Homo sapiens: one gene and its partner. Each later gene encodes a partner of the first gene's protein in a complex. Each region holds a gene or a part of one and is shown in the gene's direction. Other genes may lie near its edges. The genes, in order: CYFIP2 and NCKAP1.

Region 1 (8,996 bases):
TTCACTTTTTCCTGACTTATATTAGAGTCTATGGGTACGTCTTTCTTATAGCAATCTTTATAGCAACGCACCCACCTAAAACCTGCATTTTCAATATGAGCTAAAATGGTATTTAACAAAAAGTGCAAGGTTTTCATACCTGCTGGGAGCCGCAGCTACGGCTTCATGAATTTTCTTTCCTTCTTTCTCTCTTTCTCTTTCTTTCTTTCTTTTTACAGTGGTCCTTATGCTAAATTCATTCATCTTAAAATGATGGACAACTGCAGCTGCAGACCTCAATCTATGGTACATATCAAGAAAATTCAGCTTTTTTCTTGTAATGTTATGACTTTTCTCTGCTTTTTGGGAACACTTTCAGCATCACTAGTGTCACTTCATGTGGGTTCCATGGTGTTATTCAAGGTTTGCTGTATTACACTAAACATGATGAAAAATGTTTCATCATGAGAGATGAATTGCTCACTCAGAGATGATTAGCATCACACAGCACTTGAAGTGGATACTGGCAACACTTGAGTTCACCACAATAGCAACAAGAGATGGCCACAGGCCAGGCGTGGTGGCACACACCTGTAATCCTGGCACTTTGGGAGGCCGAGACGGGAGGATCACCTGAGATCAGGAGTTCGAGACCAGCCTGGCTAACATGGTGAAACTACATCTTTACTAAAAATACAAAAATTAGCCAGGTGTAGGGGCACATGCCCATAATCCCAGCTACTCGGGAGGCTGAGGCAGGAGAATCACTTGAACCTGGGAGGCGGAGGTTGCAGTGAGCCAAGATCATGCCACTGCACTCCAGCCTGGGCGACAGAGTGAGACTCTGTCTCAAAAAGAAAATCATAATAATAATCCCATTTTTGAGCATTTATTATGTACCAGACTCTGCTTAGTGTGTTACATTATCATTTCATATAACCTTCACAAGAATCTAAGGGATATACTTTTTTGTTTTGTTTTGTTTTGCTTTGTTTTGATACAGTGTTTTGCTCTGTTGCCCAGGCTGGAATGCAGCCGCACCATCTTTGCTCACTGCAACCTCCACCTCCTGGGCTCAAGCAATTCTCTTGCCTATAAAATGAGGCAATTTTGAGCAAGTGGTCAGGTTCTATCTACAGAATGGCCAATGTAAATTCTGTAACTGACCATCAAGTTTATCTTTTCCTGCCACCCACATAAATACTTAGAACCAAATGTGTTAGCAAGCTCATAGCAGGTAGAGCTGTGATTGATTTTTGTTTTGTTTACATTTTGGTCTTATGTACATTCGATTCTCCATCTCATCTCTCTACTCTTTTCCTTCTTTTTAAAAAATTTCTTGCTGATTTTTAATTTTTTAACATAATGTATTCCTGTAACTTACATTTAATATGTTTTTAGAATAAGGTAGCATATTAGTAAACAAATGGACTTAGCTTGGAAGAGGGAAAGTGAGGCTGTATGAGATTGTGGTAAAAAGCATGGGTTTGACTTCACTACCTTGGGCAAATTATTAAACCTTAATTGCCTCAATTATAAAAATGGGAAAAATGATTGTATTTTCCTTATAGAAAAATTACGAAAAATTAAATGAGGTAATGTACTTGGTAAATGTTAGCCATTATTATTATTATCATTATTTATGTTTTCCCTTCATGCCCATTCCAGATACTTCATTACTGGTGTCTATAAAGCAGGGTCTCCTGATAGTTTTAAAATACATATATATATATATATTTTTTTTTTTTTTGAGACAGAGTTTTGCTCTTGTTGCCCAGGCTGGAGTGCAACAGTGTGATCTCGGCTCACTACAACTTCCACCTCCCGGGTTCAAGCAATTCTGCCTCACCCTCCTGAGTAGCTGGGATTACAGGCGCTCGCCACCATGCCCAGCTAATTTTTTGTATTTTTAGTAGAAACTGGGTTTCACTATGTTGGCCAGGCTGGTCTCGAACTCCTGACCTCAGGCAATCCACCTGCCTCGGCCTCCCAAAGTGCTGGGATTATAACTTGAAGCTTTTCTAAAACACAAGGTAATGTTGCCACATGGACAACATGTGGGCCACAGCTTTGCAAGTACCAAAGCAATTCTTATTGATATCCTCTACCATTTCATTGCTGATGCACAGCTTGGGGTTGGATGTGAAGGAAATCTGAAGGCAGTAGACAGACAGCTATACATTTCAGTGGCAAAGTTTAAAAATGTCACCTATGGGTGTTCATTCCATCCATTTTTACTGAACTCCTGTTAAGTACCAGGCTCCAAGGATGCAATGGGAAAGCAAGACAGACATATCCCTGCTCCCTTAGATTTTATGGTCTCATGGTGGAATACAGGGAAGTGTGTTGACAATTATAATGCAGACTAATACGTGGGGTGATAGAGGGAGCCCAGGCAGCTAAGGACACATAGACAACTAATCTCAAGCTAACCCAGACATGTAGGAATCTTGGAGGAAGCGACATCTAGAGGAATACCAGGAAGATGAACAGAACTTCATCAGGTAAACTGGGAAAAAGTGTGGAATGTGGAGGGAGGGAATGGGGGGACAGAAACTGCCATTGAAGAAGCCTTGCATGTACGAATGTCGAGCACAACAGAGAACACAGCAAGTTTGAGGAACTAAAAGCTGTTCCTTTTAGCTGAAGCACAGCAAGCTTGTTCACATGGAGAGATAGCTGCCAGCTCTTAAAGACCCTCTCCGGCCACTGGAGAGTTTGGGCTTCATCGGGGGGCAGTGGGGAGCTAGGGAAGTGCCTTAAGCCTGGGAGGGACGTGCCCTTTAACTCATGTAATTTTCCACATTCAGAGGGAAGTTGGAGAGCATCCAACTTACTTCACTTAACAGGTGAGGAAACAGGGGTGAGGCTCCTTGCCTAAGATCATTCTTCTGTTAGTTGCAAAACTAGAACCAAAAGGCAAGCCTCTGGATTTCCAACACAGTGGCTTCAAAAGACCATACTGCTCTCCTTTATACACAAATAGAACTCAGAGGTCGGAGTTATTTTTGCCTAAGATCTAACCAAATATATATGTAATAGTCTTTTCTGTTTTTAGGCAACTTGTTCCTGAAGGTGAAAAGACAGGGAAGGAACAACAGGGAGAAATACGTCTTCCAAAAAACTATACCATCTGCAATAATATGCCCCTTAGAATGAAAATCTGATTTATTGGGATTCTCATTGTTAAGTATTTGTAATCACTGAACTTGAAATCCCAAGGATCACGGTGGAAAATGAAACATTTTTTAAAAAGGAAACCTCAGTTCTGTTTTTAAACCCATCCTCCACAAACACCCCCACAGCTTTTCACACTGAACCAGGGAAGAAATGTATGTGTGTGTATATATATATATATATAAGTCATTTTTTTCCGAAATAGCAATTTGAATTGGAATTAGCGATTTAAGATCAAACCACAAGGAATTATGGATTCTGAGCACGTGGGAAATAAGGTGAGATCAGTAAAGGAAAGCAAAGGCTTCCACAAGTCCTTTGCTGGAGCTTGAATAACGGGGCTCCTCCACAAATTGCCCTTATTAGGAACAGCTGAGTGATTAAGTATAAATTTGTGGGCCTTAGGAAACCACTCCTTATATCTACATACACTCCACAATGTCTCAAATGTTTTCAAATTATTTACCCTGTAAGGTATAAAGGGCAACTGTTATTCCCTGTGTTGCAGATACGGTGACCTCTGTGGAGCAGAGTGGTGAAGTGACCTGCTCAGGTGTCTCAAGGTTAGAATTTGGTGCAGCCTGACTTCAGCCTGGTCTGAAGGCCTACCAGGCTGGATTTCAATGAGAATTGTTTCTTTCTCTTTTTCTTTTCTCTCTTTCTTTCTCTTCTTTCTTTCCTTCTCTTCTTTCTCTCTCTTTCTTTTTCTTTCTTCCTTTCTCTCTCTCTCTCTCCCCCCGTCTCTCTCTTTCATTCTTTTTTTTTTTTTTTTGAGACAGAGTCTCACTCTGTCACCCAGTCTGGAGTGCGGCGGCAGGATCATAGCTCACTGTAGCCTCAATCTCCCAGGCTCAAGCAATCCTCCCACCTCAGCCTCCTGAGTAGCTGGGACAAAAGGTGGATGCCACCACACCCATCTATTTTTTTTTTTTTTTAATTTTTAGTAGAGATGAAGTTTCGTTGAGTTGCCCAGGATGGTCTCCAATTCCTGAGCTCAAGCAATCCTCTCTCCTCGGCCTCCCAAAGTTTTGGTATTACAGGTGTGAGCCACCGCTGGGCAGATAATTGCTTCTTTAAAGAGCCCGACACGGCAGATAAGCCTTGAAGAGAAAGGTACCTGTCCTCTCAGTGCTTCCTGCCACCTATTTGTCCGTTAGGCAATTCTTCCAGAATGAAGTTGAGGCAGGCCCCTGTAAAAGAGGTGGCAGCTTCAGGGACTCTTCTCCAGGGAACTGGAAGGGAGCGGAAGAACTTATTCTTAAGCGAAGGAGCCCTATCAGCGACCAAGCTCAATTGGTGGAAGGCCCCTTCCCCTAGCCCCAGTTGCATCTTCTGTCACTTCACCCTGCTCCTTCTCCTCAGAGCACTTTGGGCTGTAACTGGACGTTTGCTAGGTTAATTTACACCTGTTTCTCCTGGCAGGTGATAAAACTCCAAGGGGGCAGGACCCTGTCTTTTGTACACCAGTGCACACCCAAGTCCTGGCACGGTACTTGGAACAGGATAGGTAATCAATAAAGACTGGGTTGATAAAAGAGCACTTGGAAATCATGTGGGGCCAATAAGATCCGAACGCGGCCGAAGCTCTCGTCCTCGGGTTGCTGCAGGTGTGGTTCCCGGTGATGGAGGCCGTGGAAGAAGCCTTCCCTCCCTTTCCCGCCCCCAGGGCAGGAAGCCTGGGGGCTGAGCGGTCCTCCGAAACCGAGAGGCAGGTCCTGGGTGCGCCGGCGGTACAGCGGAGAGCGTGGAGAGACCCTCGCCGCAGCCATTTCCTGCCCTTTGTGTGACAGCCGCTGCGGCGAAGGGGCGGGCGCTGGGTGGGGGCGGAGCCGCGGCGGGCGGAGCAGCGGGGCCGGGGCGGGGCCGAGCGCGGCGCAGCGGAGCGGGGCAGAGCATCCTGCGCCCCGGCGCGGGGCCCTGCGGTAGCCTCAGGCCCCTCCCCTGGACCCGCCGCAGAGCCAGGTAAGCGGCCCTCGCAGGCCTCGGGCCGGGCACGGGGACTAGGATGCCGCCGGGGACGGGGATGAGGCCGTGAGGATGCGCGAAGGGCCGCCCCCTCTCCCGGCCCGCGGGGGGCGCTCGGCGCTGTGCCCGGGCTAGCCCGAGGCCCGGCCTCAGGCCCCACGCGGCCCCTTTCCCCCTCGGACCCACCGTGCGTCCCGCGGCACGGACCCTCTGCCCGGGAGGCGCGGGCACATCGCGGAGCTCCGGCGCGGCGGCGGGGGAGCCGCAGCAGCAGGTGCGCGGCCTGGGCCGGAGCCGCCAGCCCGGGAGGAGGCGGTGCTAATCTCAGGGACCGGAGACACCTGCAGCGGCCGCGAGCCCGGCAGCGGCGACATCCTCGAGTCCAGGTACTGCAGAGCGCTGGCCCCTGCCTCTGCCGCCGTGACCACCGTCACCTCCCCCAGGGCCAGCGAGAGCCGCCTGGGCCCGCCTGGCAGCCGCCTCGGGCACACAGAACGTGTGATGGGTGGGGCGAGGGGCGCAGCGTCGATGTTTGGGGGCGGAGGGCTTTGATGAGAGAGGAGCAGGTCTGACCCGCTTGGAAGCTTTCTGGCCTACACTAGCATCGCTCACCAAGCTGGCTGCGGGCACGGTGGAAGTGGGGGAAGGGGATGAGTGGGCTGACTCCTGGGGGAAAAGGTGGTTTTTTTCTTGAGCTCTGAAGAACCAGGAAGATGCTTGCCTGTCTGTTGTGGCGTCTACTTTTCAGGTCAGCCCTACCCCTCACCCCAAAGAACAGCCCACCTATGTGCAAAAGAAGAGGAGGAGGTGCTCTCTGCTTGGGGATGGGGGCAGGTAGCATGTTCCACATAAGTATGGCCCTCTATATCCAGAACCCGGCTGGAAAGGACACTGACAGCCCAGGTGCCTCCCCAGCACAGGGAATCTGATTTTGACCTTTGCTTGCCTACTTTCCCCAGCACAGTGGAAACACTCACCAGGGCTGATGAGCCATCAGCTGTCCTTCCAGCTAGGCCAAGAATGGGACAAGGATCTTTTTCTGCTAGTTCCTGGGTGCCTGTGCCCTCAGCATGGGCAGGGAGACGGAGGCAGGCCTGCTGGCAGGAGGGGCAAATCAGGAGACTGTCGGTTCCTGTGTTCCCATTTCCTGCCTCCTGTCTGTGTCCCAGTTAGGGCAGTGGGTCTCACCTTACTCTTGGATACAGGCTGTGCCAGCAACCTGGGTCCCTGAGATCTTAGAGGGCAAAAATCAGGTCCATATCTTTGGGCAGGCCTGTGAAGGCCTTGATGGTTGCTTTCTCCACCATTAGACCCTCTCTCTGTGGCCCTCCTGGTGGCCTCCCACCTCCACTTCCATACAGTGCCCTGCCCTTCCCCCAGTCTCCAGTGTCAGAAATGGTTTTCAAGAAAGGAGCCAATGATTGTGTTTATCTTGAAGAGCTAAATACAAAAGAAGTTCCCATTTGATGCAGAGCAGGTGCTTTACAAGTCATTTGACCGGAAAAGAAACAGAGGATGGAGGCATTTTAATGGGAAACAAAGCTTTAATGGGAAACACTGTAGAAATATTTGCTATCACTAATGGTAGAATTTCAAACAGTGGGCTGGAAGTGGAGGTGGGGAGCTGGGTAGTTCTTTTGGGAACGGGTCCCTGAAATGACAATATCTAGCAGCTGTCAGCTCTGTATTTGGCAAGGGCAGCTTTGGCCCTGCAGGCAGGAATGCTGTAAGAGTGTGTATGCATGCATGTGCATGCGTGCATGTTTGTTTGACTGGTCAGGTGTTACTGTCACCAGAAGGCATTTTTTGAGCACCCAGTGTCCACTTTCGGGATGAGAAACTTGTGTACACAGGGTTCCTCGTTGGCATTGGCTGCCCTTTGCCAAGGCAATTATTAGACCTCAAGAAGATAGTGTTGTTGCTTACAAAGTCAGTGCCTCTAGCTAGTTGTGCGCACTGAGCCTCTGGCTGGGGGCATTAGCTCTCTGCTCACTAAGCTTCTTTATTATATTTCCTGGCCAGTTCTGACCGGTTCTGTAGGCACCCAAGGCTGCCTTGTTCAGTCCCTGCTGGAAAATGAAAAAGGAAAAACTTGCTTTAGGCATTAGGCCAAGAGTCGGATGTACAACCCAGTGGGGTTGGAGAGTTTTACTCAAATCAGATGCTGGCCCAGAGAAGGAAGTAGACATGAATTCAAAAACCGGTAAAAGGCCCTGGTAGAACACTACATGACCCCTCTGATAAATCATGCCCTCTCTGATGTTCAGTGGCCTCTGCTGCTGTCATCAACCAGAAAGCTGAATGAGATGATGAATCGGCTACAAGCTAATTAACGGGAAAAGCGCTCCTGGAAAACAGTACGGGTCCCAGTCCCTACGTTTAAAGATTGGACTACACTCTCAACGCAGCTTCTTTGGACCACTGTTGGCCCCAGGGGTCCACCAAAAGCGTCACAAAATGGCCTTTTGTAGCCTCCATGTGGCCACCGTAACAATGAGTCTATTTCTTTACTGGCAAGTATTAATTATTCACTTGTAATTGACAAAGCCAGACATCAGTCACCTCACTGGAGTCTTTATGAAAGGCTTTTGGTCCTGTCATTCTGAGGAGCAAAGCCATGCCTAGGGTCCAGGGGATGGCCCCTGCATCAGTAGTGAGATGGTGGGAGAAGGGGGGCAGGCTGCTGCCTTCTTGGCAGTGAATGGAGGCAGGGGAGGAACTAGAATATCTTTGGATGCTCTTACTACCCAAGGGGTGCATGAAAGTGCCGAGCAGAATGCTTAGCACATAGTAAGTACTAGCATATTTATGTATTTATTGTTATAATGTATTAATTACATAATCATTAAGAATTTGGCTTATGTATGTAATCAACCCTTGGCTATTACCAGCCCCTCTCCCTCCAGAGCTTTCCTGAATTTTGCTTTTTTGAGGGAAGTTGGTCTCTGTGACCAGTAAACCCAGCCCCAAGTTTACCGGCCGAAGGAAGGGAAAGTTAAGAGTGATAGGGCATGAAGTGAAAGGCTTCAGGTGGGAAGTGCTCTTAAGTAGCACAAGAGAGGTGGGTGGAACCTGAGTAGGTAGGGAGAAGTGGGAGGGAACAAGCCAAGCAGAAGCCCAGGGCCATTCTCACATTTCAACACGTAGAGTTAAGGAAGGGCCTCTTCCTCTGTGAGAATTCAGCATTTTGCAACCATCCAAAAATGTTGAGGGCATGCTTTGCTTCCAGGGCAGACAGAGCAGCACAGTGAGCATGGGACACAGGATCCCTGACTTGCTGTGTGCCCTTAAACCAGCCACTACCTCTCTGACGTTCAAAATTGAGCAATGGAAGGCAGCCTGCCCAACTGTTACCTGCCTGTCATCATGAAAGCCTGCGGATGAGGTAATGTCTGTAAATCCCAGTCTGAGAAAAAAAAGCCGTGGAAATAGAGAAGGAGCCTCCTGAATGTGTGACTCTTTTGGGTAAATGCCCTCCATTCCTTAAGAAACAATTTATTAATTATATATTGTGTGTCACTTTAAGAAGATGGATCTGTGGCCTCTCTGTACTGTTGAGCCAATGGGAAGCTTAAAGGCACTTTGTGATTCACAGATTCTGTCAAGGCCCCTGGATGGCCTTGTCTGTACAAAGACACTTCAGAATTCAGTCAGTGGGTATGGGACGCCTCCCAGGATGCAAAGAGCTTAGATATTGGCTTTCTAGCCATGGGCATTATGCTAAGGGCTGTGTGTGATGTACCTCAAAAAATAGCCATTTAAGCCATACTTGGGCCCTGGCAACAGAGGGTGCAAATTCTTGAAAGAAATTGTTTTGAGAAGGCAGAGCTTGAGTTCAGGCAGAATTTCTTGCAGGGATCATTCTGGTTGCGTGG
Region 2 (8,493 bases), on another chromosome or scaffold:
ATATGCTGATCTTATGTTTATGCAGTAATAGTCTTCATAATGATAAACAGCTACTGGTTCCTGGTAGGATTTTGGACGTGGATATGACTTGAAGTATGATGCCACAGCCTCAAACAAATCTGGGGTTTGAATCCCAGCTCTGTCACTTATGGACAAATTACTTAACTTCTCCAAGTTTGTTTCCCTAAGTGTAGAATGTGGATAATATCTACTTTAAAGGGCTATTGTAAGCATTAAAATAAGATCATGCGTATAAATTGATGAGATGGTGGGGAAGAAGAGGCTACCACAAAGTAGGCATTCAGTGTAAATGGTGGTAGTTTCTCCAGTATTATTAGGCTATTTGGTTTCACTTATAAAATTGCCTTCAAAGAGTTTTTTCATGGCTTTTATGAGTATTATAATATCAGAACTTCCACTCATGCAAATGTAACATTTGTGTGTTAGTCTATTCTATAGCTCTGATCGGAGTCTTTATCTTAAATGGGAAAGATTATTTTCCCTGTCATGTAACTTTAACAGAAAACGATGCTAAAATTAATTTTAAGACTGCTCTATACTATATGTATGTTATACTATATTTTTATATACTATACACAAAAATGTATAAGATGTAAAGCTTGTATTTTCAAATGTTATTGCAGTATCCAGAACAATTGCGACAATTGCTCTTGGAAGCTTCTGTGCTTTTCCACATGCTGTTCCCTGTCTCTGGAATGGAATGTTCTCTTATTCTGGCTGGCAAACTCCTGAACATAATGTAAACAGTAAGCTCAAACATCACTTGCCCTTTCCTTACCATGCCATCCTGTTTCTTCTAAACCTTATAAATGCCTTTATTATAGTACATATTGAATCATAATGTAATTATTATTTATCTCTGACTCCTTTGATTCTGGGACTGCCTTGAGGTCACGGTCTAGGTTTATTTCATCTTTCTGTCTGTTTAGTCAAATTTCCTACCCTGTGTAACTCTCAGAATCTTACTTTAAGTTAGGAAAGGCCAGTGGCTGGACAGATGCTACAGACCTCCATTGGTACAGATGCCCTTAGCTTCATGTTGGGAACAAGTGGTTCTGTTTCTTTTTGTTCCTGTGGAGAAGCATCAGAGATACAGGCAGCTGGGGATTTCTACACCTGTAATAGCAGCAGCTCAGTGATGACACAGAGACATGTTTTTTTTTTTTTTTTTTTTTTGACAGAAGGCGAAGGGGAAGCAAGGTACTTCTTACATGGCAGAGGGAAAAGGAGAGTTGGAGTGGGGGAGGGGGAGAGGGAGGAGCAGGAGCAGGGAGACGGGGAGGGAGAGGAAACTGCCCCGAAGACATGGTTTCTAAGATTTCTCCCAATGAGACAAATCACTTGTCTGGGATGTCAGGGGGAGAAGATGCAGAATCTGAGCCCCTTGTATAAATAGACAAAAGGTGAAAGCATTGGCAATAGATCAAAAAGGCATTCCACGTAGCAAAAAAATTATTTTTAAATCTGAAAATTTAAGTGAAATGCCAAGAGCAAAGAAGAGAGGCCATCAGAAAAATTTCAAAGTGACTACTCAGGTCATTGTCCTGAAATAAATGATCATTTTATTCTGGTGACTCACCCCTAGCTAGAGTCAGTACTTCATAGAAAAGACAGGAGCTGTGAGACACTTAACTGTAATCTTACCCCTTTACAGAAATGCCTCCTATAGTCAAGCTGGTCTGATGATCTCATGTCATCATGCACAAGGATTAGCAAGCCTTGAAATTTTATCCTGTCAGTGTAACTCCTCATCTAGTCTCAAGATTGCACTGGCAGTTCTTTCGCAGCTGATCGTACAGGGAGGACCAATAAGGCTCATAGAACACCCTTGGAGAATGAATGCCTCTGCTGCTGGAGGTCACAGCACCCAGAAAGTGACTAGAGGGAGCAGCTGATACCTGCTCTAGTGAGTTGTGCTATTCCTGTCACATCCTTGCAGAGGTCCAAGGGTTGCTGGCAAGTGAAGGAATATCATGCCTGTAGTTTGAAGGATAGATCACTCAACTCTCAACTATTCTCTCTTCAGCTGTGAACCATACAACGTTTTTGAAAAGCAAAGTCTGAACATTTGCATTCTATACAGAATATTACAGTTGGAAAATAGGTGTGGTGTCTAGAGAAATGCTTCTAAATGCTGCAAGCCACCCTATGTGAAGCCTAGTCTAGAAATCTGCTTTGCTTCATTTATTAACTTCATTGTATCTTTGGAAGTAGAAGTTCTTAAAAGTGTGTACAGAAGATGAGTCCTCAGCATGAGTTTCACTGCCTGTCTGTGTGAGAGGAAGTGACCTTGAGAGCAGCTGTAGCCCTAGGGGGACACCCAGGTAGAGGTGCTCACAACATGCTCTGACACCCGGTATGGCTGCATTCCCAGCTTAAATGATCACATCTGCTCTTGGTTTTTTCACTGTTTACAAAATCTGATTTCTTTAAAGGGAAGGGATGGAAAAGGTAGTCAATGCTCCTCTGAGCACCCAAAGCATCCCTCCACAAGAACAAAGAGGAAAAATCATTACTTGCTCCCAACATTACACAAAGCGCATCTCTACCAATGGAACTCTGCAGTGTCGGTCTAGCCATCAGCCTTTCCCACCTCACAGCATATTTTCTGTGGGGGTAATTTATTAGAGGGGAATTTGTTCCTTTTTACTCTTTTTACTCTTCAAATTAGTAATAGAACCCCTCATGTCATTCTAAGTGACTTAAGTTTTAAAGGGAACCAGAAAAGGAGAGAATATGCTATTGTGGCACTTCTAAAATGCAGAGTGTCCTCAAAGATGGTTATAGTGGGTAATGGGTTTCATATAAATTGCATACTAGAGTATCTCCATTTCCTCTTTTAATTTTTTAATTGGTTTTTTAAAGCTTGATATGCTGAGTTAGTTTTCATTTAAAAACAATGCTTGAGTAGGAAAGTTAAAGAAATAGAAATTGCCTGTTTTAATCTATTCATCCTGGCAGCAGGTATGTATTGTATCTGTCCAGAGTCCAAAACGTCAGCTCCCTCCACTTGCCTTCCCCATTTCACATAAACTATAAAAGTTAGAAATAATATATTATGTCATATCCTAACATCAGTTCAATGAATATAGTTTTTAAAATACCTACTATGTGCTAGATACTGAGGACAGAATGATAAAATACAAAACAAAGCTAACTAAAAACACAGTTTAACTAGTCTTGTCTACGATTACCTGCCCTAACTATAACTTCATTTAAGGGGAGATACTGCTAAAGGGAGTTCCTTCTGTGACTGCACACTCTGATACCAATATGTGACTTCTCCCTGGCTACAACTGATTAAATGAGGGAAGAAAACTGATCCAAGGGGAGTTAGTCCAATAGCTTGTAAATGGTGGGTTCTTATCAGAGTTTTCTCACTAAGTTAGAACCAAGAGGCTGAGGGTTGTGGGGGCTACTTAAGCAGAAAGTTTCATGGAGTATGGACTGTGCACCATTGTGAAGTTTCCTGTATTTCCACAGGCTGTGGGGGCAGAGAGCATCAGAGTGCTGATCAGGAAAAAAGAATGAGGCAGATGCAGACAGAGAAGCAAAGAAGCATGAGAGGATGAGAATTAGGAAGTAGACTCTTTTTTCATTTTAATTAATTTGACTAGATTATATTTCTTGCAATCAAAAGGGCCCTGTGCAGAGAAGGTCCTTATCTTCGTTCATTTTTTGTTGCTATAGCTGAATACCCGAGACTGGGTAATTTATAAAGTAAAGAAATTTATTGCTTACCATTTTAGATGCTGGGAAGTACAAGGTCAAGGGTTCTCATCTAGTGAGGGCCTTCTTGCTAGTGGGGTCTCTGTAGAGTCCTGAGGTAACACAGAGCATCACATGGTGTGGGGGTGGGATTCACCAGAGAGAGCCAAACTGACTTTTATAACAGACTCACTTTTGTGGTAACTAACCCACTCCCTTGATAGCCCATCAATCCATTAATCTAGAAATAAATTCATTCACTCATGAGGGCAGAGCTCTTGTGAACCAATCACCTCCCAGAAGTCCCACCTCTCAACACTGCTGCACTGGGGACCAAATTTCCAACACATGAACTTTTCGGGGACACATTCAAGCCACAACAGTCCTCAATAAATATTTGTTGAATCAATAAATACACAGGACATAGTGTCCTAAATGCTTGGCATGTACATGAACCAGATTTGGTCCTTGATGTCACAGAGCTTATAATATAGTGGAGGAGACAGACTTTACATGTTTGATCTTGACTGTAAAACTAGGGTCACTACTCATCATCTGATGAAGGAGGCAGACAGTAAAACAAATAACAACTATTCAACATGGTAACGTCAAAACTGAACAGAGGCTCAAGTGAAAGTTTCAATGATAGTAACCATGGCCAATGGATAGGTGAATGCATTGGAAAATTAGTATGATGCCATTAGCAAAAACATAAATTGCACTTAACTAAAGTTCATCTGGCTGAATTCTTTCCTTCCTTCCTTCCTTCCTTCCTTCCTTCCTTCCTTTCTTCCTCTATCTTTCTTTGGTTTTGAGATCTGTCTATAGTATTGTGCTAGTGCACATATTTTAATTTGGTGCAAGGCATGCTTAACAGAGTAAGTGAAAAGCTATAAAGGTTAGAGCGTGTATTAGTTTCAATGACGAAGGAGTAATAAATCATTTTGTCAGGTTGCACTCTAACATTCAAATTCCATTTTTATTATGGCTAACTAGCCAAGCATTTATAATTCTGAACTCCACAGAATGGGGAAAAAGTGTATTAACTTATAATAGATCATTGAGCTTGTTAAATGTACCTTTCCTAATTCGTACTTTTTCCCTTTTGCTGAGAAAAATGCCTTTCTGAATATATAATTTTTACAGGTCATTGGAAAGGAGTACTGCACAACAGGATTATTATAATGTGCTAAAAGATGGCACTTGTATCTCATTGCCACATAGAGAGCTCATGTGAAAACTCTTTGATCTTTGCTGGCTTTTTAGCTGAAAAGATTTGGAAATCTTTTTGGCACTGGCAAAAACAGAACTGTGGTAACTGTTTATAGTTGGTTGATTTTTAGCAATGGGTAAGAATGTCTTTGTTGAATCCAGTTTATTAATACGTAATGGGCAACATGTTGCCTTAAAGGCAAAAGCATATTTTTCTCATATCAAAAAGCTCCCTAAATTTTTGCCAATATCCAAAGATATTTTAAGATGGTCTTCATTTTCTTTTTCAGTCTGTCCTATGCTGAGAAAAAAAAATTACAACCTCTGAACTTCAGCAGTTTTTTAGGTAAAAGGAATTTTTCATGATGTGATTGATATAACTACTCAGCTGGACATAAGCTTTCAAGGGCTAAGTCCATTTGCCGATTTGTTTGCATTTCCTACTCCAACTAAAATAATTCAAAGACATGAAGTGTCTATTGTGGAAAATGCATGAATAATGCAAAAGTCATTCTCAAGTGACCTATCAGAAAGGCCTACCAGAAATGCAGTTACTGCTTTCTAATAAAATCATGAAAAACTTTTTTAAAAAGTATAACCATCTTGAATTTGTTGAGGCAATTATAAGAGAGTATATAAGGGCAAGTTTCTCCAAAAGCGGTTCTGTTTGTTTTGTTTTTTTTTAATAATTCCCATCAACAGCAATCTGTTTTCTCATTGTAGTAGTATAGGTGTTAACATAAAAGCTCAAACAGCTTGGGAGAAAAAAAAGGATATAGCAAACCTAACTGATAACTTTGCTAGTTTCAAATCATTATGATGGCCATTCATAGATGACTGAAATATTTAACATTTGAAGTAACAGAATTTTGACTTATGTTTTCATGGTTTAAGAGTTTATATTTCAAATTTTTTCACATAGTCTGTTTATAACAGTATATAAAACATGTATTAACTATATAAGTTAATAAAGTCATGAACTGATGGCCATTTTTTGGTCTTATTCATATAGTATAGGCTGTTTTGTGAATTAATCCCCTTCCCATGTGTTTGAATTCCCCACTATGTAAGGCTTAGTGGTGTTAGCATGATCCAAGGGTGGGATTTTCAGCCCTCTGACATCAAAAGGTGAAGCAGAGGACACAAAAACCCTCACTGCATCTTCCCTAGACTGGCCAGAACCACTCCATGGTCAGTGGACTCCCTTAATAGGAAGGAATGCTGGTCAGTTGTCAAAGAGCAAAAAGGGAGGGGTAGTCATGAGGTTGGTTGTAATCAGAGGTGCAACAGGTCTTTCCAAAGGGCTGGTTTCTGTTTAACTCTTAGGAAAGAACACCTAATGGTAGTTAGTGAGGAGGGGGTATAATGAGATGTGCCCAACCTCCCATCCCATCATGGCCGGGAACTCAGTTTTTAAGGTTTCCCTGAAGTCCTCTTGGCCAGGAGAGGGTCTGTTTAGTCAAATGTGGGGGGGGAGCTTAGGATTTTATTTTTATTTCCAAGTTATAATGTTGGACCATCAGAGCATGAATACAGGTTGAGTCTTTAATCTGTAAATACTTAGCAATCACCTTCTTCTCAGTAACTTTCTCTGAAGGTTGCTGATAAGCCAGTGTTCTTGATGTTTGCCCACTTACCCCTCAAGATGAGGAGTGAAGAAATTAGATTGCATTGCCAGGAATTTCCTAGAAGAAAAGGTTTTGAGGATGCATGACCTATGAGGGTGCTGAGGACCCCTTTCCACCAAACATGGACTAACTTCTGGGTTGCTCTTTCACATCTATTGTCTTGTTCGACGTACACAGAAGTGCAGAGCACAGCCGCAGCCCTCACAGCATCATCTATCTAGGTTCTGAATCCTGAATGGTCTGAGGCTCTCCTAGAGCTGAGATTCTCCTTTGCAGTTCCAGTGGAGAAAAGCACTTTCTTTGCCGAGGCAGTGTAACTTCCTTGTTCCCAAGGCTCCAACTGTTGTGGGCACATATGAGTATACATTAACATCCATGCCCAATTTATAATCACTGTTTTCCCCACATGTGTACTCAGACCTCCAAGCTTCTGAAAAATATTTCCTCTCATCTCTCAAAGAATTTTAGTACATTTGCCTGGATGCAGAAACACAAATCATGCTGGCTTTCCTACTCAATCAAAAACTGTAGCTTGAGTGGGGTGGCAAGGGTTGTCCCACAGCAGGTTTACTTGGACTCCAAAATGATGTAGAGTTTAGTGAGGCAGCTCCTTGAGTTTGAACTTAGAGCCCTTTTGGCTACCAGGGCACCTGCAGTCCTCCAAGATAGTAGAGTCTGAACCAGTTAAAGAGCCAGCTACCACAGCTTTGCAGAAACCACTGTTTCTCCTTAACTCTAGGGCTCAGCGGTTGAACTCCTTAGAATAAAACTTTCTGTCTGCGACCCTATCATTTTCTTTTGTATTTTGGCCTTCACTGAATTCCCACCCCATCCATTCCAACAGACTTGGTTATACGTGTCTGAACACCAAATGTGACAGAATTTGTGGCCTTGGATCAGGAGGCTATTTGGCCCTTATCTAAATCGGTGGCTGAGAATGGATTCCAGGGAAGTGTTTTTCTTAGGAGTACCCAAGAAGCTCAGCTCAGGTTGGGCTCCCTGTTCTATTCTGAGAACTACAAATCAAATTCAAAATGGAGCACAGAAAATTCTCATTTCTAGTTGACTTATTTGTATTTTGGTGTCCTGTGCCCTAAATATCTTCTCAAGGAAACCTTGGCTTTAAAAGTGATTGTTTACTTAAACAAATAAAACAACAACATACAAGAAAAGGCAGTAAATCCGAGCGTCCATCAACAAATGAATCAAAAAACAAATGAGATATATATGTACGGTGGCATATTATTCAGCCTTAAAAAGGAAAGAAATTTTGACACATGAGACAATATGAATGAACCTTGAAGACATTAATTATGCTGAGTGAAATAAGCCAGCCACAAAAGAACAGATATTGTATAATTCCTCTTATATTAGGTACCTAAAATAGTCAAATTGATAGAAAGTAGAATGTTGGTTGGCAGGGGCTGGCAAGGAGAGGGAAATGAAGAGAAGGTGTATGAAGGGAACAGAGTTTCAGTTGGGGAAGACGAAAAAGTTCTGACAGTGGATGATGGTGGTTGTTGCACAGCAACATGAATGTACTTAATGCCACAGAACTGTATGCTTAAAAATGGTTGAAACGGTAAATTTGATATAATGTGTATTGAACCTATTTCCAGATCAAAACAGAGAGATCTACATTCCTTTTGGTGGTGTCAAAATAAACCATTATCTTGAAATAGCCTAAATGTGTTATGTGTCCTATTGAACAGTCCGATTGCATTCTTCAAAAAAATACAGTAGTGAACATCTGAATATATATATTTGAGCACTTGGATAAATATATATGCTTTAAAAAGTCCCAGAAATGTGGTACATTATCATATAACAGTTGTACCAGTTGACACTCCCATCTGCGATATATGATCCCTGTGTCCTCATGGTCCAGCAATGGATATTATCCAATTTTTTAACCTCTGTCGAT

The links.
Region 2: CYFIP2 (region 1) and NCKAP1 share a complex: the UniProt entries of both Homo sapiens proteins name them as parts of the WAVE1 complex.

What each region holds. Positions count from the first base shown.
Region 1 is NC_000005.10:157,261,078-157,270,073, forward strand, and holds the start of CYFIP2 (cytoplasmic FMR1-interacting protein 2), read left to right. Parts: upstream 1-5,045; 5' UTR 5,046-5,118; exon of another isoform or gene 5,119-5,507; intron 5,508-5,703; exon of another isoform or gene 5,704-5,869; intron 5,870-8,246; exon of another isoform or gene 8,247-8,506; intron 8,507-8,996. UniProt on the Homo sapiens protein: Involved in T-cell adhesion and p53/TP53-dependent induction of apoptosis. Does not bind RNA. As component of the WAVE1 complex, required for BDNF-NTRK2 endocytic trafficking and signaling from early endosomes.
Region 2 is NC_000002.12:182,908,874-182,917,366, reverse strand, and holds the end of NCKAP1 (nck-associated protein 1), read left to right. Parts: 3' UTR 1-8,252; downstream 8,253-8,493. UniProt on the Homo sapiens protein: Part of the WAVE complex that regulates lamellipodia formation. The WAVE complex regulates actin filament reorganization via its interaction with the Arp2/3 complex. Actin remodeling activity is regulated by RAC1.